Linked DNA regions of Homo sapiens. The protein of the gene in region 2 interacts with the protein of the main gene of each other region in a pairwise test. Each region holds a gene or a part of one and is shown on either strand. Other genes may lie near its edges. The genes, in order: CCNDBP1, THAP10, KRTAP10-9 and LZTS2.

Region 1 (7,935 bases), about 28 Mb from region 2:
AGGGAGGGAGAGAGACAGACAGACCAACTGACAGACCATGGTTATTAAACCATTAACCAGGTCTCTCTCTTTTTTTAACAGAATCAGAATATGTAACTAAAGGTAACTAGCATGGACTCGACAATGCTCCATGTTAACTATTTTCCTTCTAGGTGGTCACTGGCTTTCTCATCTTCCTTGTCCTCAATTTTCTGTTAAATTCTAAGTCAATACTATACAAATGTGGTCCAGGTTGGAGCCAGTCTACAAACTGTTTGTGACCAGTCAGGGATGAGATAAGCAGTGACTGAGAGTGTTTAGAAACTTTTATGGCAATTTGACATTTATTCAACATCCGAGCACATAATTTTATTAAAGTATCATTCCATACAGATTGGAATTTAAAAAACAACAACAACAACAAAAAAAAACCAACAACCACCCATCTTTTAGTAGGACTAAAGTGGTGAGATCTCAAGAAGGCAATGATGATTCATGTGTATGTATGTGTGTATATACACACATATATACATATATGTATTTATTTGAATATATGTATATACTTGAATATTTGTATATATTTCAAATAAATCCAAATTCTAACTTTTCATCTATGAGTGAAACTACTGTCCTGAGCATGTATAGAAAATCAGTTCTATGCTGCCTCCTTGTGGTATCTTACTTGCAGTGAGTTTTAGCAGCAAGTCCTAAGTGCATTTGAAAGAAAGGGGTTAGCAGATAAGAAAAATAAGGTAATATTAACTACTCTTTTTGAAATAAGTATTTTCCATGAATCTTTTGAAGTGCTCTCATACAATTCATCTCTTGTTTCCTCATCACAAATCTCAAAGGTAGGCCAGGCACGGTGGCTCACACCTGTAATCCCAACACTGTGGGAGGCCAAGGCAGGCGGATCACTTGAGGTCAGGAGTTCGAGACTAGCCTGCCCAACATGGTGAAACCCCGTCTCAACTAAAAATACAAAAATTAGCCAGGCGTGGTGACAGGTGCCTGTAATCCCAGCTACTCGAGAGGCTGAGGCAGGAGAACTGCTTGAACCCGGTAGGCAGAGGATGCAGTGAGCCCAGACTGTGCCACTGCACTCCAGCCTGAGTGACAGAGAGAGACTCTGTCTCAAAAAAAAAAAAAAAATCTCAAAGGTATGTAGGAGGAGAGAGTTTATCACTGTAGGTACATGCAGCAGAAGATATTTATATCCTTTCCAAACACCTATATATGTAGACTGAAAAATTAAAACAATTGACTATGAAAATCAAATAAGGCAATGAATATGCCATTTTAAAAGAATCTTACTCCTATATTAAGCATACACAACTCTAGAAAAACTGAGCATAGAGCATACGTGGTCATAGCCAACATGTTTACTTTCATTAGTTTTATAATAAAGGAATATTTAAAATGCATAAATCTTTGTTCTAGCAATTCTACTTCCGGGAATTTTTTCTACCAATATACACACATACACAGAATTAGGTAATTCATCACGACACTGTTTGCAGTAATTCTAAGTTGGAAGGTCCAGAACAGTGTTTATGTATCATTTGTGTAAAAAGAAGCTGACACATACAGATAAATGTATATGAATGTATATATGCACAGAATATACGTGGAATAATGCAAAAGGAACTGGGGGAGACAAAAATGAGAAAGTGGGTGGAAAGGTAAACTTAACACACTTTGATATCTGTTGAATTTTGTACTATCTACATATGTTACTGATTAAATATAAAAAATAATATAAAAAGGGTATTATGCAGTATAACAGAATAGGTAGCTTAGACATCAGATAGACCTTGATTTAAATTCTAGCCCCCCTGCTTTTTTTTAAATCTTAAGCTGAGCTTCTGAGCCTCCTTGCTCATCTGTCAGATGGCCATCAAGTATGTGAAAACACCCAGCAAATAAAAAGTGCTTAAAAAATTATCAGAAGGGAAACAACCAGGATAAACTTCAGACTGAACCAATATTTATAAGACCTGCCTACTCCGCGCCAGGAACTGCACTTGGCAATTCGGTCTTCACAACAATCCTGTGAAGTAAAAACGGTAACCTCACTGGACAGATGAAGAAAAGAAATCTCCTGGCGTGCGTGCAAAAGGTGGAAAGAAAATTAGAGGATTCCTAAGGTGTAACTCGGCAGCCCAAGGATTCCACGAAAGTGAAGCCCACCTGTGGAGACGGCAGTGGAAGCTGAGAGAAGACTATGGTCAGAGTCGTGGCTTCCCTTGACACAGTCACAGCTGCCTCATCTGGGGGGTGGCCGAAGAGGAGGCAGGTGCCAATACGTTAGTGCTGCACGGACTTGGAAGACTTCCCTTACCGACCGAGACTTCTCAAAAACACTTCCCGAATGTCGAGGTTAGAATTCTATTTCACCCTCTCAGGTGCTGAGGTGGGTAAGGTACCTCACAGAAAGGATGCAGCGGGGGAGAGCAGTCCCCTCCGTGGGGGACAGCGGGAGGAAAAGGGGTCGGGACGCTGGAGGAACTGAGGCAAGGGGAGCCCGGAAGGAGGCGCACTCACTGAGTCTTCTCCAGAACATCTCTCGATTAAACTCCTCGGTGGTCTCCTGGGCTTCGCCGACTTGTGGGTGTGGCGTGTGGGGGCCGAACGGTGGCGAATGGAAAAGCTGAGGTAAGCGGAGCCACCTCCCTCGCCCAAGCCCGGCTCCCCGCCGCCGCCCCAGCCCGCCCTCTCCGCGACCCCGAGCCCGGCCTCTCCCCGACCCCGAGCCCGGCCTCTCCCCGACCCCGAGCCCGCCCCTGCCGTCGCCCGTTCTAACTCCGTCAGCTCACCCCGCACTCGAGGCAGGAGCAACCGCAGCTCCTCCGCCAAGTGCCGGAGCTGCTCCAAAGGCGAAGCCAGGGTGGGGACTGCGGCTGCAGGTGCAGTTGCGCTCGCCATCTCAGTCGCTTGCCGAAGGCCGCAAACACAGGCCTCCGCTGCCACTGCCGGAGCCGCACTGCGACAGCCGCTCCACTTCCGGGCCACAGCGTCAAGGGCTCGTTTCCGTCAACAAGCCGTCCAGCCCCGTCCCAGAGGCCCTGCCCTGCCTCCTCCCGCCACGAGGCCCGGCCCCGCCCGAGGTCCAGCACCACCCATCCCGTTATCAGAGACCAGGCCTGGCCCCGCCTCCTCCCGCCCCGCCCTGTCCCCTGAGGTACAGCACCAACCATCCCACTCTCAGAGGCCAGGACAGGCCACGCCTTCTCTTGCCCCTTAGGCCAGGCTACACAAGCAAGCCTCAGGCTCACCGTCTTTCTTATTCATCATTCATTCATTTATTTGATTAGTTGAAAACACTTCCGACTAAGGAAGCAGAGAGCCCACAATCCTGTGGGAAAACAGGCCTGGGAACTAATATCTCAGGGGTAGTGAGGGTCGGGCCCAGATCCTCAAAGGTTCCCTGCCCCTGAAATTGCACCTTTGACAGCTGCTGAATTCCAAGCACAGCGGTAAGTGCTTTACATGGGGTAACCCTAAAAAACACACTGGGCCTCAGACACTCCCGTACACACACCCAACCTCTACCCTGTGGATGTCCTAGATAAGGGTTTTCTCTTCACAAAGGTAAATCAACTCTTTGCCTCCTTAGGGAGGGAAGGAATAAAGGCATTATTTTTGAGACTTTTCTGCAGTCCATTCTGCAGGTATCAGTAGTGGGTAATCCCTCCAACGTCCAGGACTCCAAACGAGCAGCTGCTCCCTAAAGCTCACCCACCAATCCTGGCCCTCCACCTGCTACTGGGGTAGAGGCCTGGGCTACAGACACAGAGGCTGGGCTTCTGCCCAGCTGCCAGTGGTGAGACATGGCCTTCAGGAGCTCAGGTGGCTTTTTAACTGCACCATGAAGATTCCAAACTTGGTGGAGTTCAGTGTCCACACATAACGAATGAGAACAGGTGTCAGCAGTGTCAACCAGGTCCGCAAAGGGGAGAATAAAAAAGCTAGGGTGCCGTATGTTGCATAAAGAAAGTAGCAGGAATAAACCTGCCAGATGTACAGCAGTAGCATAAGTAGGTGAACAGGCATAATTTTCAAGTATTTTCTTTGATGGAGATGAGACCTGAAGTTGTGACCAAAGCACCGCTGCAGCAAGCTCCAACACATGTAAGCCATCAAGGGGATGTTAAAAAACGCCAGCTGGAAAAGAACAGAACCATAGCTTACTCCCAAGTCCTTGGAAGAGTTTGGTCTTAATAATGCATTATTAGTGGATCCTAAGACTATGCTGCTATCTGTCTTGGCGTTAGCTAATTTACTTCAAGCACAGTTGCTTATAACACAACAGCTGACTTGTGGCTAGTTGTGTATTTGCCCATGTCCTTTTATTCATCTTAGAGGCAGGTATCATTTAATTTATGCTGAAGTCCCAACTTGTAGTACAGTATCATATACACAGTTAATACCCAATGGTGTTAAGCTGGAATTGAACTGAGTAAATGTATACACACACATACAACAACCCCTCTTTTTTGGTGGAGTGAGGGGAGGACTTGGCTATCAGTATTTTTTTTCTTACCTCCATTTTTGTTTGAGGTAGCATGATAAGTACTGGAATATAAATTAGAGTATCTAAATTATAATCCAAGTTGAGCTGCTGTATGATTCATTCATTTAACAAATATTTATTGAGCACCCATTATGTAGCAGGCATGAGCTAGGCTCCAAGTTGGGGACACAATGGCAAACAAGTTAGAAAAGGTCCGTCATAGAGCTTACATTCTAACAGGGAGAAGACAGACAAAAAAAAAAACCAAAAAATATAATTACAGATCGTGATTAGTTCAATGAAGGAAAGAACTGGGTCATGAGAAGGTAACTGGGAGAAAGGCTCTCAGAGGCCAGAAGGACAAGAATGAATCAGCGGAGGGAAGTGCATTCTAGGCAGAAGGAACAAATGAAAAGCCCAGAGGTGGGAGAGGTCTTGGCCTCTTTAAGGAAGTGCATGCAGAGCATGAGCCAGGTGGAAATTGGGGCAGTCGGCAGGACCCAGATCACTGCTCTGCTTCAAAGCATTTCAAGCTGAAAAGTAAGTGAGCTGATTGTAAAGTTTTTAAAAGAGCACACTGGATGCTCTGTATTAAGCTGAGAGTAAGGAGGCAAGAATATCAGGGAGAAGACCCAGGCAAGAAATAATTACAACTTAGATTAGGAAAACAGAAATGGAGAGAAGTGGATGGATTCAAGATATGCATTGGAAGCAGATCAAATAAGGTAGAGCTTGCTGGTGAAATAGATACAGGGTATGAAGGAAAGGGAATAATTGAGGATACATCTTGGAGAAATCAGGTGAATGGTGGAGTCATTTATTAAAACTGGAAAAACAGAGAGGAACAGGTTTGGGGTGGAAATAATGTTCCTATCAGAGAGACATCACATGAAGTTGAGATGCCTGTTAGACATCTGTGGCCATTGGATATAGAGGCACTTGAAGTGCAGAGAAGAGGTCTAGATCAGAGATATAGATTTGGGATTCATGGGTCTGGATGATACATAAAATCCATTATTAGTGTACTATTTATTAGAATATGAATGTAAACATTTACAAAGGAAAAAACCCTGCCTTTTGGTAAGGCTCAGGATTCATTTGGTATGAGAGAGCTCCTTAGAGACAGCCTCCATCAACATAATAGAAAACTGCAATGAGGCTGGGTGCAGTGGCTCACGCCTGTAATCCCAGCACTTTGGGAGGCCGAGACGGGCGGATCACCTGAGGTCAGGAGTTCGAGACCATCCTGGCCAACACAGTGAAACCCTGTCTCTACTAAAAATACAAAAATTAGCCGGGCATGGTGGCAGGCACCTGTAACCCCAGCTACATGGGAGGCTGAGGCAGGAGAATCACTTGAATTAGGGAGGCAGAGGTTGCAGTGAGCCGAGACGATGCCATTGCACTCCAGCCTGGACGACAAGATCGAGACTCCATCTCAAAAAAAAAAAAAAAAAGAAAAGAAAAGAAAAGAAAACTGAAATGAACCCAGGACCTACTCATGTATATAATGCTGCTATGCAGAGAATATTCTGGACTTGGGTCAGTGTTTGCTAGGCAGAAGTCTTTCCTACTTGGCTGTCTCTAATCCTGTTGGATCATGTTCTACTGCCCTGTTAGAAGGCCATGAACTTATTTTGAATGTTTTTGGATCTCTTCCAAAACTTCAAATTTTGGTCCACTAACTCCATTAGGTGAGTAAAATAAAGAAACTGTTAGATAAATACTTTTCAAATCTGTTTATGTAGTTTTTCTATGGATCAAGGTTCTTTGTGTGTTTATTTTAAAGGAATCAAATGTAAACCTAATACATCAGTTTGTTTCCTAAACAAGTACATTGCTAGGAAAGCCCAGGTCTGGTTTTTGAATAATGCAGTTTCCACTGAATAACTGACCCATTTTTTTAATGTGTCTATTTTTTAGTTTCCTCCCTCTAAAATATTTTCCTTCTTCATCATCATAATCAGTTTTGGTTTACTCAGAAATCTAAAACTTTTTCTACCATAATCCCTTGTTTCATTTTTTTGTCAATGAAAAAGCACAGTGAAACAAAAACAACAAAAACTTCTTTCACCTCTTATAAACACTTCATGACAAAAATGTATTTTAGGCTAGGCATGGTGGCTCACGCCTATAATCCTAGCACTTTCGGAGGCCAAGGCAGGTGAATCATCTGAGGTCAGGAGTTCGAGACCAGCCTGGCCAACATGGTGAAACCCTGTCTCTACTAAAAGTGCAAAAATTAGCCAGGCATGGTGGCACATGCCTGTAATCCCAGCTACCCAGGAGGCTGAGGCAGGAAAATCGCTGGAACCCAAGAGGTGGAGGCTGCAGTGAGCCAAGATTGCACCACTGTGCTTCAGCCTGGGCGACAGCAGAACACTGTCTTGGGGAAAAAAAAATGTATTTTAGATGTTTACATGAGAGTGGTGGAAGGAGTTTAGGAAGCACTTTAAAAGCAAATGAAGCTTTTATTAAAGACTGCCCTGCAAGTAAAGTAGGAAAGATGATCTATGGTACTTAATTCTGGATTTTGGATTTAATTCATAACTGTTATGCAATTAGTCTGACAAGTCCAAGATGTTCTTAAATTGCTTTTCTGACTTCTTACCTGGAGAATTCCAATTATAAATGTTATGCTGCCTTGTAGGAAATGTCCATTAACAAATATCCCAAAGGAAAAGCAGCAACCAAATTTGCCATCAATGATTTCACCAAAAAACCATGGACCTAAAAGAGGCAATGGACAAAAAAGGAGGAGATTAAATAACTATAATTCTGATTACATATATCATGAGATACATTTATAGGAATAAAGCAGAGATATGAGACTAGCCATCTATAAGCATTTTATTTCATAGCCTTCCCTCTTTGCTAGTCTCTGTGTTGTACTTGATATCCTTGCTAACCAACTATTTTTTGGATTGTGAAATTGTCTTAGTAGACACTATACCTAGAACAGATATGTGTCTTATAGATTCTAGAAACAAAAAAAGCACACTCACATTTTTGAAAATTCCATTGCAATAATAACCTCAATATAATGCATTAACATTTCCTTTAAGATGTAAAGAGGTATTCCACAGAAGTTAAATTTCCAGATGATTGAGATTTACTCCTTAAAGCAAAAAAACTTCAACTACTTTTTGAAAGAAATCTTTCTAAGATGCACTCGTTAATATAATGAATGTATTTTAACCTCTTCTTGAAGGCCCACAGTCATTACTTTGTATATCAACTACATAATCACGGTTACCATGTAGAAAGTTTAACTTGCTTCAGTTTTCTCATCTGGAATGCCATGCTGACTTTTCTATCCTCCCTATTATTATTTACTGCCCCATTCTCAGTGTGTGAGTTTCTAGGTATTATTATTATTATTATTGTCATTTTGTCTTGTAAGTGTGCTGGTCTCCATAAGAGTGTCAAGTTGTTTGTCAAGA
Region 2 (7,659 bases):
ACCAAAAATGTCAAGGAAATTGACAATGCAAGCATAAAAACCCTAGTTGAGGCTTCACATCTATAATTCTGTACCTAAAACAGTGATCGGCACACAATACTTGCTTTATAAATAAGTATTGAACTGAATCAAATAAGGCAAAGACAGATGTTTTCCACACTGTGGAACTGCAGTTAGGCTGACGTCATGTCCAGCAATTGGCCAAGACAAGAGTGTAGAATGTAGGAAAGAGAAAAGATATGTCAGATTAGATGGGTCCAAGAAGTAGGTCCAGAAATAAAAAGAGAGAGAAAATTAACCAATATTTTAAATTGCCATATGTTCCCACAGTAATAACATGAACAACCTAGAAAGGCCTATACTGATCAGCCCTCTCATATAAACTCCTAAGAGGTAGAGGCAGTTTTGTATATGTGGATTCAGAAGTGTTTAACATGAGCACATTACAGAAAGCTAATGGCTGTCAGCAACAAACCAAGATTCAAATGTGAAGGAACGTTTTCCTTGATTTGAAAAATATATTTCAGAAATATAACCAGATCATGTGAGGCAGTATTTGTCAAAGGATGACCCACAAACCATATACCTCAGAATCACCTGTGACATTATTAAAATGCACATTTCCAAATCCCGCTCAAGACCTACAAAATCAGAATGGGGAAGATGGAGGGGGAGCACTAAGAATGTGCATTTTTAACAAGATCCCAAGATCCCAAGTGATAGACACTAGAGTTTAAAGCCTTTAATATAAAATCTATAATTATATGTGACAGTAACAGGGAAAGATTGTTTCTTCTCTACTCCTGACTTTACATTCTTTCCTGATTTCCTTAATATTTGTGTTCCCATACTCTTACTCTAATTAGCGACTTCCAAATACTGTTCTAATACAGTATTTGAAACATTCTTTTTCCATTCTCTAGTGTATAGCCCACCCTCAAAGTAAAATAATAACAGCTTTTTTCTGTATTGGAAATAATCTACTATGCTACATATATATAACCAATGATTTAAAAAAATACCAAACCAATTTGGTCCCAATGAACAATTTCATTTTAAATTCAAGTTTATTTGGATCTAGTAATTCAACATTATTAAACACTTAATATTATTCAAAGATGATGAACCACATCTGATCTCTATTCACTGACAATACCTTGCCTACTTGAGTAGTTTCTTTCAAGGTCATGTTGTAAAAGTCTACCGGGGAATGACGATGTGTCTTTATTTAGCTTGAATTCAACCTGAAAAACATTATTAAAGAAAAAAATATTTGGAGACAAATTTAACACCAAGCAGTGAAGATAAATTAAAAAAACATATAATAACTGATACACATGGTACAATGTGGATGAACCTTGAAAACATCATGCCAAGTGAAAGAAAACTGACACAAAATACCACATTGGCAAATCCATAGAGATGGAAAGCATATTTGTGGCTTCCAGGCATTTAAGGGAAGCAGGGAATGGGAAGTAACTGCTTAATGGGTACAGGGATTCCATTTGGAATGATGAAAAAATTCTGGAACTAGATAGAGGTGATGGCTGCACCTCTATCATTGTATTTTACCACCCACAAAATCAGGATCAATTTTATGAGGTCAGATACAAGATATTCCAAGCTGAGACACTTCCAATCCCTCCACGCTCTCACCACAAATACAATGATTAAAAGAATCATTTGCTTCAAAAAAAAACACACAATATAAATAAAATGCTGTTGAAAAAATCACTGTTTTGATCATTATAATCCTTTTAAATGTCCTATTATAATATAATAAAATTGTATATTTAAGCCTTCTAAGAAAGGTTTTCACTTGATCTAAAACTGATCTAAAATAATTATCTGGTGGGAGGACTGAGAAAAACAAAACCAGAACAACTTCTTATGATTAGCCACAAAAAACCCCAAATATGTATCTTGAATTAATTAAGATACTTCTAATGTATCCATACTATAAACATTATGTTGGCATTTGCATTATATCCTTAGGAATTATATGACCTAAAGGTATTTTCTCAGAATAGATGTCCACACAAGAGAAAGTGAATGGTTTGGAAAAAATATTTAGATGAGGCACACAGCTCTAGAAACATTATAATGGTGGAAAAGGATTTGTCCAGAGAAATCAATTAGGAAAGCTCTGGAGAGAATCCATTATGCTCAATTATAATAAATAATATTTTCAATTAATCTAACTGCTGTTTATTTGAGATGATCAAATTGTCTATTTTCTGAGTGTTTACCATTTTCATATTCATATATAATGTAATCAACAGCTGCCTCCTTGACTAACGATGTCCTTCCATTTACCTTCCTCATGCCTTTTCTTACCCTTCTTCATGCTGTTATGTGTGAACTCTGCCCTTCACTTTAGAGTTCTTCCAGTGACGCCTATTTAATAACTTTTTAGGACACACCTGAATTGTGATGGTTAGAGGTTTCCAACTTGGTCAAAGGAGGAAAAATCATGTTGTGTCTTGAGACATAGTGTGTAGAAAGTAGGTAAGTATAAATGCTGAGGTGAGACAGAAAGGAAAGAAAAACATGTTTATCTCAAAATCTCAAAAATTAAATCAAAAGCCAGAAATTCTAGAAATGCTAGAGACATTATGGGGAAATAATCTTGGGGAAAAAAATCTCATATTCATATCGTAACTTCTAAATAACGTTAAGTCTAACATGTGTCCACTGCTAACCTATTTTTTTCTTCCCTGATTTTAAATGGGATGTGTGGATATGCCCTCCCAATTACCATTTTATCTAAGGTGTCATTAGTAGTAAGACATACCATTATTTTACCCTCTATTAAGAAAGAAAAAAAACCTCCCCAATTAAACTATGACATGCCATCAATTTTAAGAAGGCTCCTGATTTCAGAAATGTGTAAATATCACTGGGTGCGGTGGCTGTTGCCTGTAATCCCAGCACTTTGGGAGGCCAAAGCAAGCGGATTGCTTCAGCTCAGGAGCTCGAGAACAGCCTGGGCAACATGGTGAAACCTGTCTCTACAAAAAATACAAAAATATTAGCCGGGCGTGGTGGCATGCACCTGTGGTCCCAGCTATTCAGGAGGCTGAGGTGGGAGGATCGCTTGAGCCTGGGAGGCAGAGGTTGCAGTGAGCCAAAATTGTGCCACTGCACCCCAGCGCCCCAGCCTGGGTGATACAGCTAGACCCTGTCTCAAGAAAAAAAAAAGTGTAAATGTCAAAAAAAAAAAACAAAAAAACCCTTACCCTTTTGTAATCAATAAAATCACATTAAGTTTTTTAAAGAGGGCTATTTTAGCTTTATGTAGGCAGAAAGTAAGAACTAGCTTTAAACTGGAAATCAAAGCAAATCTACTTAAATTTTTCAGTTTAGAATCTATCTACACTTTAAGTCATGCTGCTATTTGTGTAGAATTTAAAACAATCTTCAATTTAAATGCCAACCTTCTTAAATCTTACTTTGTTTTTTTCAGGAAGCGATGATGTTTGAATAACCAGATGAAGCCCGCAGTTCACCTGAAATGTAAAAATTAAACCATAAAATTTGCTCTTAATACACAAACACATATTTCCAAAAAAAAAAAAGGTACAAACAGAAATACAACAAAAAAATAGAACACAATGCTCTATTTCTGTTTCTGGTAAATGATCTTGTTCTGAGGATTTGCTGAAAACAATAAAATCACATCTAAGAATTAAAAGGTTTCACTGATTTATTTTCCAAAATGTCGGCAGCAATTTAACCCTCTAGTTAGTACCTCAGGCTTTCGACATTTGCCATTCAGGTCTAAATAAACATCTCAATGAGACAGGTGAAGGAGGTGGGAGTCCCTAATGATAAATTCTCTTCACAGTTAAAAGGAAAAGAAAAGAAAAAGGAATTGACTGGCCAAAGGAATTTAAATAAACCCAAGCCTTTCACAGCAGACCAGCTCCACCTTCTGGGGAGCCCAGATCCTGGACAAGACTTTGAGTACCCATCATACAATATTAAATTGTGCCTTGGTCCAGCCCACGAACCTCAAACCCTGGTCAGACAATAGCTTGAGTAGACCCAGCGGTGCCGGTCCTAATAATACAGCCCATCTCCTAGGACAAAGACGCCAGTCAGAAAGAGTACCAGTGGGAAGAAAGAGAAAGTAGAAGGCCCAACTTACGTTGTTCGCAGCCCGGCCAGAAACAGAGCGATATTTCCCGGGAATCATGATAGGAGACAGTCCAGGTTCTCTGTTAGATCTGCCTTCCAGGTGACGCTACAGCGGAGATTCAAAGAGACCCGAAAGAGGTCATCTCCCAGGCAACCTGCTCAGGGTTACCATGGAAACGACCATTTCCGGTCTGGACCTCTCCCGAATCGATAGAGCCACACAGTCGTTGCAGCTTCTAGTTGTATTCGTGAGAGCCCAGTGCGTCACCACTTCCTCGTTCTATTTTCCCAGCCTCATAAAAACAGAGCGGGAGTATTGGGAGGAGGATAAGCTGGGGAAGAGGCTGGCCACACTGGTTGCTATAACCACCACCACTTCCGGTCCGTTCCTCTTTACGGCCCACCTCAGCGCTGCCCGCGCGAAATTTGTATCCCTCTGCTTGTGTCCACTGGCTCCTGGGGAGCAGCGCAGGGAGGAGGAGGAGGAAGATATCAAAGAGCCCTCCCATTGGGGGCCCCAGATCGCCACTTCCGGTGACCAGAGGTAGGGAAGGAAACAATCCCGACCCGGAGTGGACAGGTGAGGAGGGGAGGACTTGCCTCGCCGAGGCCGCTGCGAGGAGCGTGCCCAAGGGCGAAGGTCCAGGGAACCCGGCTCCCGCGCACCGAAGACGGCCGCCATGCCGGCCCGTTGTGTGGCCGCCCACTGCGGCAACACCACCAAGTCTGGGAAGTCGCTGTTCCGCTTTCCCAAGGACCGGGCCGTGCGGCTGCTCTGGGACCGCTTCGTGCGGGGTTGCCGCGCCGACTGGTACGGAGGCAATGACCGCTCGGTCATCTGCTCTGACCACTTTGCCCCAGCCTGTTTTGACGTCTCTTCGGTTATCCAGAAGAACCTGCGCTTCTCCCAGCGCCTGAGGCTGGTGGCAGGCGCCGTGCCCACCCTGCACCGGGTGCCCGCCCCGGCACCTAAGAGGGGAGAGGAGGGAGACCAAGCAGGCCGCCTGGACACGCGAGGAGAGCTCCAGGCAGCCAGGCATTCTGAGGCTGCCCCAGGTCCAGTCTCCTGTACACGCCCCCGAGCTGGGAAGCAGGCTGCAGCTTCACAGGTAAAGAGAGACCACCGAAGGTTGTGTAAGGACCCCTGGACTCTGGCTGGGCTCCTCCACTTAGTGTCACCTTGGGAAAGGCACCTCATCTCGAAAGTTCCTGTTTTCTAATCTGCAAAGTTAGGGGTGTGCTTTAGAGGTGATCTCCAAGGTCCCACTTATCATTAACACTTTGGAATTAAGTGACCCAGTTAATTCCTTCTAACTGCTCCTCCCCCAAAACTCACACACACACACACACACACACACACACACACACACACACACACACACACAGAGTCTTGTCCTGCAGAGTAGTGAGTTGCTTTCACTCGCTGCTCCAGAGTTTTTAAATAGAAAGGGTTTAATTTGAGCAAATCTCCAGGATTGGAGTGCTTGAAACTGTGTTGCATAACATTACATAAGCTTGAGGAAAGTCCCTTATTTGTGTCACAAATGATGGGGCGAAGGAGATGTGGAGCTACAGATGAAGATGATGGAGCTTGCTAATAAATCCCTTCCCACCCCAAGCTTCCTTTATGACTGATAACTAGCTCCAGCTGCCTTTAAGTTCAGTATCCCTAGTGAGCTGACTTTCCCCATCTTGCTCTCTTCTGCCTACTTTTCTGTTCCTTCTAAACATTGTTTGCACTCATTTTGCATCTGGTTACTACTACCTTCTTCCCCACGTACCATTTTAAAGAAAACTTTCCAGCCTTCCTTGTGATAAACTTCAGCCTTGCCACCATTACACAGATTAAATTATAGCAAGAGGTTAGTAATTTCCTCAGGGGTCTGTAATCCTTACTTAGGTCCGGTTGCCAGACCAACACTCTTTCTGCAGTACTAACCTGCTTCCTACATTGGGGTGGGTATTTAAGACCCTTTAATGGCATCTTGCAATTATTAAGATAAAGAGCAAAATTATTAACCCAATTTACATGGCCCTGCATGTTTTTTCCCCCTGCATACCACACTAGCCCTAACCAAGGCCACTGTCCCTGTTGCTCACTGTGTACCATCATGCTGACCTTTCAGTTCTTGGACATACTATACTATATTACTTCCTACCAACAAGACTTTGCTCAGTTGTTGCATGTATTATAATATCCTGGAACTATGCCCCTCCCACTCCCATCATTGCCAATTAAGTCTTTTTCCCTTAAAAATCAGCTAAACATCTTTCCCCTTGATCCCTTAGTTATGTACTCTCATTCTTCGTGTACTCCATGTGATTCAATAGCACAGATACTTCAGTAGCACTTACCATAATTGCCATGAAATAATTGTGTAGTTTGCTTAATATTTGTTTCTCATATTAGAATGTAAGCTCCATGAGAGCTAGGATCATGTCTGATTTCTTTGCCATTGTATTGCAGTGCCTAAAACAATATTTTACAAATTTAAGTAATTCAATAAATATTTATGGAATGATTACATGACTATAAGAACAAATTTTTGCATTATAATTGAATTTTCAATTATCTGCCAGTTTCCCTCCTCACCAAGCTGTATACCTGTCAAGATAGCTGTCCTTTCCTTGAACCATCTGTCCACCATCACCACCTATACAAACTTTGCCCAAACATATACATCCACATACATATATATGTGTGTAGCAAGAGAGATAAATACTAAACATGTGCCACACACATCCCCCTACACCATTTTTCTTCTTCATAATTACACAACCTAATCAAAAATTGGGAGAAGAAAAGCCAAGCTAGTCAAACAACCAAAGTCTTTATAACCCATAAAAACTAACCGTTGGGAAACAGATCCAGCATACATAATAAATCTGTTTTCCATTTAGTAAGTATAACCAGCCAACATTTATAACAATCCATAGTACATTAATATACTTGCTGAATTACTAGAAAACTGTGAGTTCTAAAATAGTCACTTTAAAAGTATATAAGGTTAAAAAGATTTTGAGTTGATAGCAATAAATGTTTAGCCTGGTCTGGATAAAGAACCCTAACCACATCGCTAAAAAATTGGCTTGTCTATCTGACTTCTTCCCCCACCCAATGTTTTTCTTCCCAATCCCAGGACTAACTGTCTAAAAATCAGATTTCCAGTGATTCTGCAACATTTATTGAAGAGCTATTGTAGACACTGTTCTGGGTGCTTGGTGCTATATATGGATCAATATAAATATGAGTGTTACATATCTTTAGGGGGCTTCCAAAAAGATAAGACACCACTTCCAAGGAAAGAAAGGGGCTTATTTATTGTTTTCCCTTAACTGTTAATTTTGCATTCTTTTTTAAAAAACCCAACTGAATTTTTTAAATTGTTGACTTGAACTATAGCAAATACACAGAAAAGTGAACAAATCTTAAGTGGACAAGTCATTAAATTATCATAAACTGAACATGTGTAACCACAACCCAAGTCAAAGAAACAGAACATTGCTAGCACCCCAGGA
Region 3 (6,722 bases), on a different chromosome or scaffold from region 2:
GCGGCAAGCCCAGGGCTGGAGCAGGGGCCATCCCTGAGCGTCTGTGAGTGTCCACAGGAGGCCAGGATGGCCAAGCTCTCTCCGAGTGGAACTCCTGAGTGCTGGGACAGCTGGAGCCCAAGTCTCCACACCCACCCCCCACCGCCCGTCTCCCACCTCCCAGCACAGCTGGGGCCTGCCACCCCCCGGGACAGCCCCAACCCTTGCCATGGGAAGGAGCTGCTTCTACCCACAGTGAGTGGGGCATTAGCCTGAGTCACGTGGTGTCTGTGGGACTCAGCCAGTGAACAAGGCTTTTGGGCCCCACAGGACCTGGGAGGGGAGCCGGACAGCAGAACGTGCCACGAGGTGGACAGGAGCTTCCAGGTGTCACACAAGAGCCCCCCGAGGCCCCCCAGCTGGGGAAGTAAAGAGATCCACGGGGCCCAGCCCCCCAGAGCCAGGCCAGGCCCCACTCTGCCCCCTCCCGCCCTGGGTGCGGAGAGTCAGCACGGAGTCAGCTGGGGCCGCAGACGCTTTATTGGTGCTCAGGGGCAGAGGGTGACGCTGCTGGGGGTGAGACCCGGGTCAGGAGGGCCCGTCCCCAACCAGCGACCAGCGGAGGGTTGTGGTCTGCAGCCAGGAAGCACCGTGAGGAGAAGCCAGGGCTCGCCTGCCCGGGGGGGAGGTCAGGGAGGAGCCAGTGAGCATCTGAGACCCCGGGGCTGGGCGGCTGTGGCTGGGGCTGCTCCTTCTGTGTTGAGCTGTGCTGAGGCTGGGTGGGCTGGGAGGTCCAAGGACTGGCAGGGAGGTGGGGCCTGAGCCCGGCTGGCCCTGGGGGACATGACCGTCAGCAGCTGGACTTCTGGCCTGAGGAGAAGCTGTAGCAGGCCGGGCGGGAGCACACAGGGCGGCAGAGAAGGGACACACAGGAGGCCTGGCGGCAATAGCTGGGCTGGCGGGAGGAGGTGGGGGCACAGCAGGAGGAGACGGGCACGCAGCAGGCGGGCCTGCACACAGGGCGGCAGAGGAGGGACACAGAGGAGGAGGGTCTGCAGCAGGAGGTGGTGCAGCAAGCCGGCTGGCAGCCAGACTGCTGGCAGCACAAAGAGGAAGCCCCAGAGCAGACAGGCACACAGCAGATGGGTTTGCAGCAGACAGGCTTACAGCAGACAGGCACACAGTAGGACTGCTGGCAGGGGGAGGAAGTGCAGCAAGCTGGCTGGCAGCTAGACTGTTGGCAGCATGAATAGGAATCCTCAGAGCAGGTGGGCGCACAGCACACAGGTTTGCAGCAGACGGGCACACAGCAGGCCGGCTGGCAGGAGGAAGAGGCACAGCAAGCTGGCTGGTAGCTAGACTGTTGGCAGCACGAAGAAGCCCCACAGCAGACGGGCACGCAGCACACAGGCTTGCAGCAGACGGGCACGCAGCAGGCCTGCTGGCAGGGGGAGGAGGTGCAGTAAGCCGGCTGGCAGCTAGACTGCTGGCAGCACGAGGGCGTGCAGGAGCTGGTGCAGCCTGATTGGCAGGGGCTGGGCTCACAGGTCACCTGGCAGCAGGGGCTGGATACACGGCTCACTGGGGTGCAGACCAGGGTCAGGCAGGGGGCCGGGGCGCAGCAGCTGGTGGCGCAGCAGGGGGGCTCACAGCAGCTCTCTGGGCAGTCGTCCACCTGCCAGGAGTCGGAGTAAGCGCTGGAGCGGATGGACATGGTGGACGCGGCCATGCTGGGGTGGGGAGGAGGTGAGCTGGGGGAGGTGTAAGTGAGTGTGTGAGTGTGTCAGTGAGTGAGTTTGTGAGTGTGTGAGGTTCTTGGGGCTCTCAGGCTTTTATACCCCTCCTGGCCTTGTTGTTCCAGGGCCCACAGCTTCCCCTTCCTTGTTGCTGAGAGGCGGCGTCTGCCATGATTAGGGATGTTTGTTTGCTGGTGACATTGCCCAGCTCACAAATCTCCTGTCACACCTGGGCTATAGTCTGTTGCATGTGGAACCTCAGGGGCAGGAGTTGGGGTGGGCCTGATCCCAGCTGGGTTCTGGAGGCAAGGACGGCTGTGGGCGTCTGGTGGGTGGGATGTGGGTGGGATGTGCCTGGGGCCATCTTTGGTTGCTGGGGCATCGTCCAGCCACTGGCCCCAGCAGCCTCAGGACACGGGCTTCCTCTGCAGGAAGCCGGCCCTTAGGAATTATTTCCTGTGGTGCAAACTCCTCCTCTAGTATGGTCCTTCCCCTGCTGTAGGACACAGGACTCGCCAATTTCTAATCCCCATGGCCTCTGTGCCTCCTGCCCTCTGTTCATTGCCCACCCTGTCCTTTGCTTGGGAGGCAGCAGGACTCTGTTCCAGGGCAGGGATCGTGGGCTCAGCCCACTCCTTGCTGAGGCACAATGGCAGCATCGTGGGCTGTGGTTTCGGGTTCTGAACCCGTGAAGTAGCTGTGCTAGGCAGCAGGCAGCCGCCAGCCCTCGCCACTGCTGGAGCCATCTCCTCCGTGTGCCCTGCACTGCAAGCATCTTTTTCTCACCAGCCCTGCCCACAGGCCCCATCACACACCCCCAGGTCAGCCACAGGCAACTCTCACGGCTGCATGATCTTTGATGATGAATTGTTATCACCACAGGGCATGATGAAGTCCCGAGCTTCTTGCCTTATAAAATGGCCCTGATCACTTTCCAGGAACATTGCTACCCAGCAGCTAATTATAATATTGATTGTGATTTCACATTTTTATTTAAAAATTCAAGTACACATACGCATATTTCATTATAAAGTAAGACGTATTACACGATGTTGAGTAGAACGTCTTTGTTGCTGTGAATCTGGCAAAGCTGGAAACGGCCTCTCATTCTAAAAATAATGCTAACATTCTGGGTCAGACCTGTCCCCACAGGGTTTCTAAAATAAGACAGAAGTTGACCAGCTATGGCCAGCTGCCACACCCCACCAGTGCTGCCCAGGTTGTAAGAAGGAGGCTGTGGAGGCAGGGGTGGCCCTTCAGTCTTACGCAAAGTGTGGTGTCCCAGGGAGAGAGTCCTCCAGCTACTGTCCCTGGGGGTGTCTCTAAAGTGGGTCCTCACTGAAGAGGCAGAAGCAGCTGGTAGAAGCACAGGATCACTGGAGCAGCCGGAGAGAAGGTGCAGCAGTGGCCAGTGAGCCCCACAGTGGTGGCCCTGCACATTCCTTCCCCCGTCCCCATCACTGAAGAAATTAGAGCCCAAAACAGGGAGAAGGGGAGCAAGGAAAGAGAGGCCATGCCGCTCCCCGCGGCCTTCCCCGAGGTCCACTCAGACTTGCATGTGGGAACGCTGGGGATAGGACTGGGTTTCAGACAGGATAGAAAAGTTTTGAACTGGTCCATTTTGGGCTATGGATTTGGTTCTGCTCTTTCAGGCCATAGCTTTATGATACGCTTCAATCATAGATAATTCAAGTCCCATTATCAATATTTCTTTTTGTAAAAAAAAATTTTTTTTGTAGAGACCAGAGTCTTGCTATGTTGCCCAGCTGGTCTTGAACTCCTGGGCTCAAGTGATCCTCCTGCCTTGGCCTCCCAAATTGCTGGGACTACAGGCGTAAGCCACCGTGCGTGGCCCATCATCAGTATTTCTGTGCCAAGTCTCCTAACTTTTCATGCTCATTTTCTTTGCTGTGCTCAGCTCCCATTCTTCAAAGGTAAGCTTCATGTGGGCAGGAAGTGTGGTTGTCTTGTTCACCACTCAGTCTCTGAGGGCCTAAAATAATGCCTGGAATAGGGAAGATCCTTCATAAAAATGGGCTGAAATAATAAATGTTTTTGGAGAAATTATCGAAGAGTAATTTTGACCTCTGAAAACGATTCCATTATGCTACCTTTTTCTTATGCTGTATAAAACTCTCTGTCAAGTTCTGCTTTTGTGTGTGGGGAATTGGCTGACATCAGACTGGCCATCTAGCTGAGAAAAGTTAGGAAACCTGGTTTAACAAACAAAATCTCTATTTGAGGGCACCAGGAGTCACCAAGACAGCTGAGACTTGAGTGAGTGAATCCCTATTAGAGGGAAAGTGCACAGAAGTGAGTCTAATATTTCTTCTGGATTTTCTTATTGAGGCATTTACTGATTCACAGACTACAGCCATGAGGCTGAGGCTGAGCACAGCTTTTAGTAGTCTCATACAATTGGAAGACAAAAACATAGAGTTCAGGACCTGACAAGGAGGAGGGATTCTGGTAAAACAACAACAACAACAGACTGTCAGTTGGAAACAGTGAATATAAGTGAAGGATTACGCCCTAGGATGAAGGAAAAAACGGAAAGAAGAATGAAGCCCACCTTTAAATCAGCTCGTATTGAACTCATATGATCTGCCTGTAGCCTAAGTGCCTCCCAGAAACAAAAGTGATCTCTTCTGGAGACAGCAGCATCAACAGAGGCTCAAATCATCTTGGAAATTTTCATGAAGTCCTGGATTCAGTCAAAAATTACTAGGGCTACTAGAAGACAAACCAACTGACCAAAGGACCAAGAGGAAAAAGCAAACAAGAGAAACAGATACACAGGACCTTTAGATATTAGAATTGTCAAACTGGAATTTAAAATAATGCTGATTAGCTTGCTCAAAAAACCAGAGGACAAATGGAGAATTTCAGTGTCAAACTAGATTTATGAAATGGAATCAAACAGAAATTCTGGAAATGAACATAATAGCTGAAATTAAGAACTAAGTAGATTAGCTAGACAACATATTAGACAAAACCAAAGAGAAGATTAGTGAAGAAAGGGAGATGAGGAAATTCAGCCCTGAGTACAGAGATGGGAAAGAAAAGAGGGAAATGAAGAAAGTGGAGTAGTAAGCATGCCCTTATGTTGTAAATAATTATGAATATAAATGGTTGAAATCATAGGAGGAGATGAGTAAAATAAGGGTAGTAAAATATTTGAAGGTTTAATAGACAAGAAGTTTAAAGTGATGAAAAACATTAACCCATAGATGCAAAAAGCATTTAAGAATGTTTAGCAAGGTGAATACAAAGGAAACCATGCCTGTGCATATTGGGGCTGAAATCCAAAGACAGAGAAAAATTTAAAAACAGCCAAGGGAAAAAAAAAGAAATATTACCTTTAAAGAAGCAACAATAGCATTTACAGATGACTTCTCAGTAGAAATGATGGCAGCCAGAGGATGATGGAATGATATATTTACTGTCTGAAAGAAAAGAAGCACCAAGCTAGAATTCTACACCTGGGAAGAAGATCCTCAAAAATGAGGACAGGAAAATGATGTTCTCTGGATGCTGAGAGGTTGTGTCACCAGTAGGATCTGCACTACAGAAAATAAAAAGATAATTAGGCAGAATGAAAATGATCACAGATGGAAGCAAGAAGTCGAAAAGGAAATGAAGTGTAACAAAAGGAGGACAACATGGGGAAATCTAAATGAATATTTACTGTATAAGATGTCTTAGAAGTTGTAAAATATTTATAGAAATGAAATACATGGCAAGAAGATCACAAAATTCAGGAGGGGGCTACATGAAGTTAAAGCAGTCTTAGTACACTATACTATCTGGGAAATAATATAAGATCTAATTTACATTAGACTTTAAAAAGTCATAGATTCATGTTGTAATCTCCACTAGAGTAATGAAAGAATATACAACTCAGGAGGAAGTAGATGAGTGTAGTGGGTTGAATCTTGCCTCCCCAAAAGTCATATCCACCCAGAACCTCACTGTGTTAAGCTGGTCTCGCATTGCTATAAAGAAATATTTGAGACTGGGTAATTTATAAGACGAAAGTTTAGTTGGCTCATGGTTCTGCAGGTTGTACAGGAAACATGGCGCTGGCATCTGCTCAGCTTCTGGGGAGGCCTCAGGGGGCTTTGCTCATGGTGGAAGGTGAAGGGGGAGTGGGCATGTCACATGGCAAAAGAGTAGCAAGAGAAAGAGAGTGGGGGATGGGAGGTGCTACACGCTTAACCAGATCTTGCCAGAACTCCCTCACTATCACAAGGACAGCACTACTAAGTCATGAGAGATCCGCTCCCATGAGTCAAATAGCTCCCCCAAGGCCCCACCTCCAACAGTGGAGATCACATTTCAACATGAGATTTGGCAGGGCCATACAACCAAACCATGTCACTCACAATGTGACCTTACATAGAAATAGGGTCTTTGTAGATGAAATTAGTTAAAATGAGGTCATACCGGGTTATAGTGAACCTTAAATCCAATGACTAATGTCTTTATCAGAGAAAGGAGAAGGAAGTTCAAACACACACACAAAGGGAAGACGGCGTATGACAGCCAAGGCAAAGATTGTCATGAGGCAGCTATAAGCCAAGGGACGCCAAGGTTTGCTGGGAGCACCAGAAACTAGAAGCAGCAAGGACAGAGTCTCCCTTGGAGCTAAGAGAAAGCATGGCCCTGTGGATATCTTCATTTCAGGTGCCTGGCCCTAAGAACTGCGAGATAATAAATTTCCACTCTTATAAGTCACTTTTTTGGTGACATTTGATGTGGCAGCCCAAGGAACTAATACAGTGAGGGGAAGATGGGGGCATAAAAAATCTCAAAACACTAGATCCAAAAGCAGTAAAGCAAGGAGATAAAAGGGAGTAGATTCCTTGCGTAAGCAAAAACCAAAATGAGATGGGAGGTTTAAGCTCAAACGTATCAGCAAAGCCCCACATTCTTGCCAGTCCTGCACAGCAGATGTGTTGTTACTTTAGTCAACACAGCTATACAGAGAGAGTCCTTTGGGGTTTA
Region 4 (7,728 bases), on a different chromosome or scaffold from region 2:
TGTAGGTGAAGCTGGTGACAGGGACAGCCTTCCTAGGGGGCACAGCTGGGCACAGCGGCTCCTGTGCCTCATAGCCACCCCGTAGCAGGCCATCCTGCTGGCGGAAGAAGGTGGGCCCAGGAGGGCCGTGGTGGCGGGGAGGAGCTGGCCCCCCGGGACAGGGCCGGCCTGAGATAAGGCTGCTCACACTACCCATGACTGGAGCTTGTGGGGCAGTGGCAGCTTCAGGAGCAGGCTCCAGTGGCACTGGCAGAGTCTGCACAATGGCCATGGTGGCAGAGGCTCAGGCCTGGCCAGCGGCCTCGCAGGCGACCTGTAAGCAGGGCAGTGGTGTCAGAGTCCCTCCACCTTGAGACCCCTCCTGACCCACTGATCCTGACCAAACACCTCCTTGACATCAGTAACAAGCCCTGATCCCCACCAAGACTCCCCCTTCAAGTGCTGGAATGAATCTCAATTCCCCCTGGGCCCCAAACCACACTGCCCAATGCTGGTCTGAACAGGGCTGAGGAGTGAATTCACTCAGCAGAGATGCTGAGAGGCATGGGAGGCCTGGATGATTACCGCAGGGCCACCTGGCAGCAAAGACCCAGGCCCAAGCCCAATCCTGCATCCTCCACAGAGGCCAGGACTCAGGTGAGGGAGGGGCCTTCTCTACCAGCTTGAAGCACAGGTCCCTGGTCCTCTCAGCCAGGTGGCCTCATTACAGGGCAGTTTGGGCAGAGGTACCTCAGGGGTGCAATCAGCACCTCAGATGGTAATTAGGGAACAAAGAGCCAAGGCCAGGCAGTGCCCTGCCTCCCTCTGCTGGGCCTCAGTTTCTCTCAGACAGAAAGGCGGCTAAACTGCCTCTCTGTCGATCTGGCTAAATAAGAAACCCGCGGCTCTTAGGGAGTCCACAGGTGTCCTTTGGGGTCTCCTGCCTCCCAGAGGTGGATGCAGGCTCATACCAGTTTCCATGACAACTCCTAGCCTCTGCACACCCAATCGGTGAGGCCTGAAGGCCTGAAGGAGCCTCCACAGGCTCTGCCCCACTGCCAACCTCTCTGAAACCCTACAGCTTCAGAAGGTCCCCAAACTAACCCTGAGGGGAGGAAGGTAGATGCCCTGCCTTCACCTCTGGAGGCTGCTCCAAAACCTCACTTCCACAGAGCCCAGGCAAGAGGGCTCCACCTCCCCAGGCTCTGCTCCTTCCTGGAAGCAGCTGCAAGCCTCCACCCGGAACCCCCTCCCTAGTCCCAGTCCCGAGGCCGCTGATGACCAGGACTTAGGCATCTGCTGAAGTCATCATGCAGAGCGGGGCCAAGAAGTGGACAGAGAATTGCACTGGGAGTAGGAGTGTGTGCATTTAGTTATTTGTTGTGTGACTACATGCACAGGAGCATGAAAATGAACACGTGTGTATGAAAATGTGTGTGAAAACATCATGTGAGTCTATGCATGTTTGATATATCAGTTCATTCACATACATATGAGTTCATGTGTGAATTCACATGTGTATATCTTAGAAGAGTATGTGGATCAGGGGTCATTAGAAAGCCTGTGAAAGTTATAAATGTGGATCTAACAAGTGAATTTGTGGTGTGTGGGAGAGACGGTGCCTGGACAGACTTGTCAGTAAGTTCATGAGTTTATGTGTGAGCTCCTGTGTTTGTGTGTGACTAGGAAGGTGAGTGGTGCAGTGGAGCCTGTGAACGTGGGCACGCAGGTATGAGAGTGGTGGGAGCCTGGGTGGCTTGAGGGCCCATTGGTGGGGGGAGCCTGTTTCCTTCTCTCTTCGGCGTGTGGGGAGAGGTGGGACATTATCTAACTCCTTTGCCTGATCTGTTCCCCTTCTTTCTCGCATGCCCTCCATTAAATCCACCGCCCTCCTTCCCACCCAAGTCAAAAGACACTGCGAACCAGGAAGAGGTGTCCACGCTGGGGCAGGAGCTGCGGGGAGCTGGGGGAGGGGTAGGCCAGGAGCAGGGAGTGACCACAGGCCCCTCTGTAGGGCTGGGGCTCAGACCACCCCACACACCCCAGCCCCCAGCAGAGCAGATAGAGAACCCCCTCCCCTCCCCTCTCTGGGCCCACTCCAGGGTGTGGAGTGAACAGTGGGGAAGGGACTTCTTAGGGGGCCAAGGGGGCTGGCACCTCTGTTGCATTTCCCCACTTCAGCGAGCACGGAGAAAGTGAAAATTGAAGGAAGGAGACAGGCTCAGAGAAAGACAGGGACCCAAAAGAGACAAAGACTCGGAGAGGCCCGAGGGTCAGGCCGACAAGGGGACAGCCAGCGGGACCCAGTGAGCCAGGGCCCCCCAACCCCACGGAGCCGAGGGCCCATAAGTCCAAAGTGCCACAGAGCCGGGCCCTGAGAGCCACACATCCAGGGAGCCAGAGCCAGGAGTCTGGAAAGCCAGGCCCAGCCAGGCCGGCTCCCGCTCTTGGAGCCCGAAAGAGAAGGAGGGGCAAGTGGAGGCTCCATTTTGAGAAATGCGTTTGTGGCTGTGGGAGATGGGAACCCCTCATTCTCCCCAGCACTCCCTGAGCAATCACTCTGGCCCAGGAGCACCCCCCTTTTAGTGGGCTGAGGAGAGCAGAGGGCTGGAGCTGGTTCAGGGCCGGAGACGGATCTGAAGAGTTGGGGAAAGTCTCCCTCCCACCCAAACTCCAAGGACCAGTCAAGCGGGGTCAAGTCTGCGATCACGAGTTCCCATTCTGCGGCGGGAAGCCAGGAGCCCCTGACCCATTCTCCAGAGTCCAGCCCCCCTTCCAGAAAGTGGGGGCGACTGGGGAACGCCGTCCCCCCGGCTGGATTCCACCGCGCATAAGTTGGGGGCTCCCCAGGCCGCCTCCCAGACCCGGCCCCCCTCACCTCCGCCGCGCTGCTCCATGCTCAGCCCCAGGCCGCCCCCAGCGCTCCACAGGCGCGCCGCCCGGCCCCGGCTCCGGCTCCGGCCCCGGCCCCGGCCCCGGCCCTGGCCCGCGCGCCGCCACTCGGAGCTGCCCGGCCCAGCCCCGCCTCCGCCTCCGCGGCGCCCCCGGCCCTGGCCAGCCCCCGCCCGGTGCGAGTGGGCGGCACCGCGCAGGGGAGGGTCCGAGGGGCGTCTCCGCCCCGGGGCGCGGACACGCGCAAGCACCCGCGTCACGCGAATCCGCCGGGGCGCACGTAGGGGCTGCTCGGCGGCAGTCGGGAGCCCTCCCTCCGACGCCCTGTGACTGCGTGTCTGGGGGCTCGGTTCGGCTCGACGCGGCGGCGGCGGTGGTCACCCTCAACCCCAGCCGGGGCCCCGGGGCCAGCGGCAGCTGGTCATTGTTCCAGCACAAAGGGCCACGGCGCGGCGGCGGCCGCCCCTCCCCCTCCGCTTCTCCAGGCGAAGCTTCCCTGACACGCTCTCAGCCTCAGAGTCCCAAGCGAGAGGCCGATGGCCGGCCGTCCCCCACTCTCCGGTGCCGGGACCCCGCGCCCTAGCCCGAGTAGGAGGCCGAGGCTCGATCCGCGCCTGCCCCACGGCGGGTTGGAGGCGGCAACCTGGGCTTCGCGGAGGCGACGCCACCTGGCGGCCGGCTCGGAGAACACACCCAGCCGCCCCCAACACGCGGGCCCTGCCCCACTCCCCGGCACGGTGCCCTTTTCCCCGCGAACCCAGGCCGGCCTCTGGCGCGACCGCGTGCTCCCCAGCCTCCCCTCGGGATCACTTGCTAAGAGAGAGGTCATTTATCGGAGAGGAGCGGCCCCTGGCTCCCCAACAATCACTGGGGCGAACCGGTGCAAGCCTACAGCCCAAACCTACACCAGCCTCACGGCAGACAATATTCCACTTCCTCAGGGTCAAGTAGTCTCACCTTCTCGCACACAATACAGTCTCCCTAACACCCACAAGACCTTTCCCACATGCAGCCGCAGTCTCAGCCGTCACGTGGGTCCGCGTTCCTTCTTTCCATAATCTTCCAGTCCACCTCACACACAGACACGGTGTCACAGGCCTGTTGGGCACAGGCTTCCACAACAATCCGCAGTCCTTCGCACCCAGTCACAGTCTCAAGTGCACTTAGTCTCCTAACCATCTTTCACGCATTGACAGCCTCTATTCACAGTCACTCACACAGACAACTTCTTACACGCCGTGCTTCACAAATATTCTACCGCACAGCCTTTCCCCTAGGGGTCTCGGTGACCCGGTCAGGTCAGCTGATGCCTGCATCCCTGGGCAAAGGCAGCCTTTCTCCCCTAACCACCCCCTCCCCCGCAGGGCCAAGGCCTGCCGGAGCTCGCCCGGGCCCCAGGAAGGAGCATCCCCCCCTTCCAGGCCACAGCCCTGGCCGGCTCTCAGCTCTATTTTTAGCTCCATGGACAGGGTTGTTTTTCTTTCTTTTTCCCTGGAAAGGGAAACACAGCCCAGCCACCCTGACTCACCCCAGACCCTCAGCCTCACAAGAACAGACTGAGCCCCTCTCCCCAGCAGAGCCCCCTCCTCTGGCCTTGCCCTGATCCCTGCCTCCTGGGGCACCGAGAGCCTCCTCCTCTTTCTGGCAGCCTGCCCAGCTCAGGCGGCAGCTGGGCTCAGCGTGTGTGTAGGGGTAGGGGGTGGGGCGAGGAGGAGGCATCGGGCTACTGCCCACTCCCTCATTCCCTGGGGGGAGGGGCTCGTCCTCCTTTTTCTAGGGGGGCAGGCCCACTCTGGTATTGAGGGAGCGTTTACACTCATGCATTTTCTGGGGGGAGGAGACTCCGACTCCCGCAAGGAGTGGAGGTGAGGGTAGGAAGGGGACCCGCAGGCGCTCAGGCAGCTGCTCTCTGGGCTGGCGGTAACAGGCGGGGGCAGCTGTCCACTGCCATCAAGGGCCTGTCTCCGAAACCTTCAGGGATGCAGACACCAAGAATGTGCTGGGGAGAAGGACGTCCAGGAGCCCGAGTTAACCCCAGCCCTGCCCAGCAGCCGGGCCCTCCTGCTCCGCCCCGGCTCCAGGGGGCGCTGTGCTCCGGTTCCCGGGAGAGGGCTTATCCCCGCTCCAGGCGGAGAATGGAACGCCGTCCGGCCTGGGACCAAGCAAACGCGCCCCGGACTAGGGTGGATTTCCGCCCCGTGGTTGGGTTGGGGGCACAGGCCACTGGTCTGCGGAGCTGTCACGTGCTCGGCGTCTGTTTACGTCTTGGTCTTCACCTGCGGGAGGCCAGGAAGCAGGAACCTCCGGGTGCGTCCCACCCGGCCCGCCCCCGTCGGTAGTCACAGGGCTGCCCCTTTCCCGCACCCAATACGCGACCGCAGAGTGCCCTGCCCGCTGTGGGTCCGCGCGGGCCGGCTGGCGCTGTCCCTGGGAGTGCAAGGGTGGCCAACTGGGCGCGTCCTTTCCGAGTGCATGTGTGTTCGCGTGTCCCAAGTGCGGGCGTGGGTCTGTGCACGCGTGTGTGGGGCCCGTCGGCGTGCGTTTTCGTGTCACTTCCCTGTTCGGACTCTTCGCGGGGACCCCACCAAGTGCGGACCCCCCTCCTCACCCCAACCCCTAGCTTCCCTAGAAGCGGAAAGTTCGTTCAGGAGCGGGGATGAGCGGGAGGCGGGAGTTCCTGCACCTCCGCCGCCCCACCACTCACCCAGCGCCACCTGCGCCTCGGCTCCAGTTCCGGCCCCGCTCCTGCTCCAGCGCGCCCACCTCCTCGCCGCGACAACGCCGGCTCCCTAGCCGGCTCCGAACTCTAGGTTCCGAACTCTGGGCTCCCGGCTCCCAGCTCCCGGCGCCCGCCTGGCCCGACCTGGTGGAGCGGGGCGGGGCGGGGCGGCTCAGGCCGCGCCCCCCACCCAGGGAGGGGAGTGGTCTGCCCCGCACTCCACCAGCAGCCGACCCAGTGCCCAGCCTAAGAGTGACTCGACGGTGGCCGAGGCTGCCCCTCTGGCCTCTGACTTCACAGCTTACTGGATTTGGTTTTTGACCTGGGGAAGGGGGCGAGCATCACGTGACCGAGAATTCGGCTACCTGGCTGCCTTAAACTAAGCTTAAACTAAGAGCTTGACTCTGCCACCCTCCCTGCTCCGATGGGAGCCCAACCCGGTCCACTCTTGGCCCAATCCCCAAATACAGGGACAACCCCTGGGAAGCAGACAAAGAAGGCTCAAGTTTCACCAGAGCAGCTCCCACCTACCCCTACCACGCACACACCTCAGCGTGGGGCTGCCCAGGCAGAACCAGCACAGCCCCCTCCCTAGAGTAGGTATCTGCCCAGGTGAGCAGGCCTGCGGGTTCTGACCCCCACGGGGCATGGCTGGGCTTCTCGAAGACTCATAAAGTCCCACCCACAGGCACAAACAGGAAGTTGGCCTGTATTGCAGGGAGGCCCCAAGGGCTCCCTCCCACCATGGCACTCAAGGCAGCATGTAGGAAGGTCTACAGGTATCTGGCCCATATGGGCTACAGGAGACCTCGGTGAGTTGTTTTTTGAGACGGAGTCTCGCTCTGTCGCCCAGAATGCAGCGGCACGATCTTGGCTCATTGCAACTTCCGCTTCCCAGGTTCAAGCGATTCTCCTGCCTCAGCCTCCAGAGCAGCTGGGACTAGAGGCGCGCACCACCACGCCCGGCTAATTTTTGTATTTTTAGTAGAGACGGGGTTTCACCATATTGGCCAGGCTGGTCTCAAACTCCTGACCTCGTGATCCACCCGCCTCGGCCTCCAAAAGTGCTGGGATTACAGGCGTAAGCCACCGCACCCGGCCGAGTTGTTTCTTCTTAAACCCATCCACAGCAGAGAGGAAGCTGCCAGAGGACCAAAGCTGTCCCCTCATGGCCAAGTGTGACATACATTATCAATTAGAGGACAAGGCTGTAGATCCAACTGGACCTGGCTTAGCCAGGCCTTTCCTGAGATCTCAGGGAAATTTTTTTTTTTTCCTCCCAATCCACCGAACCTGTGAGTCAGGGAGATTCTTAACATCCAGTTGGGTGTAGACAGACCAGTCCTATCCCAGGGAATCCGCACAGGCCCTAGGGACCCCCCACTGCTTTCTAGAATCCAGGGATCTGAACAGACTGGGTGGAATCATGATATGGGGTATTTAAGGCAGGTATGGAATAGAACGTGTTTGTGCAGCGGGTAGGGCTGGGGGGAGTATTAGCTTCCCCTCCCCCTCATCATTCTGGTTTGTGCTGTGTGGGGGTGTCTGCTAGAAGGGTGGGGCAAGACAAACAGCCAAGTCTGTATCTATCCCTCTATCCCCAGTTCACAGAGACCTCACAAAGGTCCCCTACTGGAAACCCCTAAAAGATCTCCTGAGAACCCACCAGGCATTCTAGGGAGACAGGAATGTGGAACCCACATCCTTACAGGTATGACTGATATGGTATTGTGCCTCTGGAAGGCATGGCTGCCGTTCAGCGTTACAGACTCTGGATGAGGCCTAGACCAGCCAACGGCTGGGAATGATTACTGCGGGATTAGGGAGGCCTGGCTCCAGCCAGTCTGGGAGAGACCCCCAAGAAGGGAGGCCCTGGAGGAGCTCTCCCCACCCCCCCAGGTTCTTCCTCACAGAGAGCAGCTTTCCAGCAGCCTTGCTCCGGATGTTTCAGGAGACATTTGTGACCAGAGTTCTCACACTCCAGAGACCACAGACCCCTCCATCGGCCCCAGAAGCCCCTTCATAGGTTGAAAGGAAGAGCCTGACAAGGCAGCCCTGCTTCCAAACGGAGCAGGAAACCTTCCCCCAACCCTTACAAAAGGATTCTCCCCAGCCCCCTCAGAACATATTGCATTCTC

The links.
Region 1: the proteins of THAP10 (region 2) and CCNDBP1 interact in binary tests that used the Homo sapiens proteins (3 or more experiments, as listed by UniProt).
Region 3: the proteins of THAP10 (region 2) and KRTAP10-9 interact in binary tests that used the Homo sapiens proteins (3 or more experiments, as listed by UniProt).
Region 4: the proteins of THAP10 (region 2) and LZTS2 interact in binary tests that used the Homo sapiens proteins (3 or more experiments, as listed by UniProt).

What each region holds. Positions count from the first base shown.
Region 1 is NC_000015.10:43,180,468-43,188,402, reverse strand, and holds the start of CCNDBP1 (cyclin-D1-binding protein 1), read right to left. Parts: upstream 3,001-7,935; 5' UTR 2,905-3,000; coding exon 2,796-2,904; intron 2,635-2,795; exon of another isoform or gene 2,584-2,634; coding exon 2,524-2,583; exon of another isoform or gene 2,516-2,523; intron 2,250-2,515; coding exon 2,170-2,249; intron 1-2,169. Other genes in the region: TMEM62 (transmembrane protein 62), read right to left, coding at 3,817-4,143, 7,104-7,222. UniProt on the Homo sapiens protein: May negatively regulate cell cycle progression. May act at least in part via inhibition of the cyclin-D1/CDK4 complex, thereby preventing phosphorylation of RB1 and blocking E2F-dependent transcription.
Region 2 is NC_000015.10:70,889,434-70,897,092, reverse strand, and holds the start of THAP10 (THAP domain-containing protein 10), read left to right. Parts: upstream 1-4,659; 5' UTR 4,660-4,820; coding exon 4,821-5,249; intron 5,250-7,659. Other genes in the region: LRRC49 (leucine-rich repeat-containing protein 49), read right to left, coding at 1,157-1,244, 3,438-3,509, 4,151-4,198.
Region 3 is NC_000021.9:44,622,158-44,628,879, reverse strand, and holds KRTAP10-9 (keratin-associated protein 10-9), read right to left. Parts: upstream 1,788-6,722; 5' UTR 1,709-1,787; coding exon 830-1,708; 3' UTR 502-829; downstream 1-501. UniProt on the Homo sapiens protein: In the hair cortex, hair keratin intermediate filaments are embedded in an interfilamentous matrix, consisting of hair keratin-associated proteins (KRTAP), which are essential for the formation of a rigid and resistant hair shaft through their extensive disulfide bond cross-linking with abundant cysteine residues of hair keratins.
Region 4 is NC_000010.11:100,995,082-101,002,809, reverse strand, and holds the start of LZTS2 (leucine zipper putative tumor suppressor 2), read right to left. Parts: upstream 3,003-7,728; 5' UTR 2,858-3,002; intron 314-2,857; 5' UTR 272-313; coding exon 1-271. UniProt on the Homo sapiens protein: Negative regulator of katanin-mediated microtubule severing and release from the centrosome. Required for central spindle formation and the completion of cytokinesis.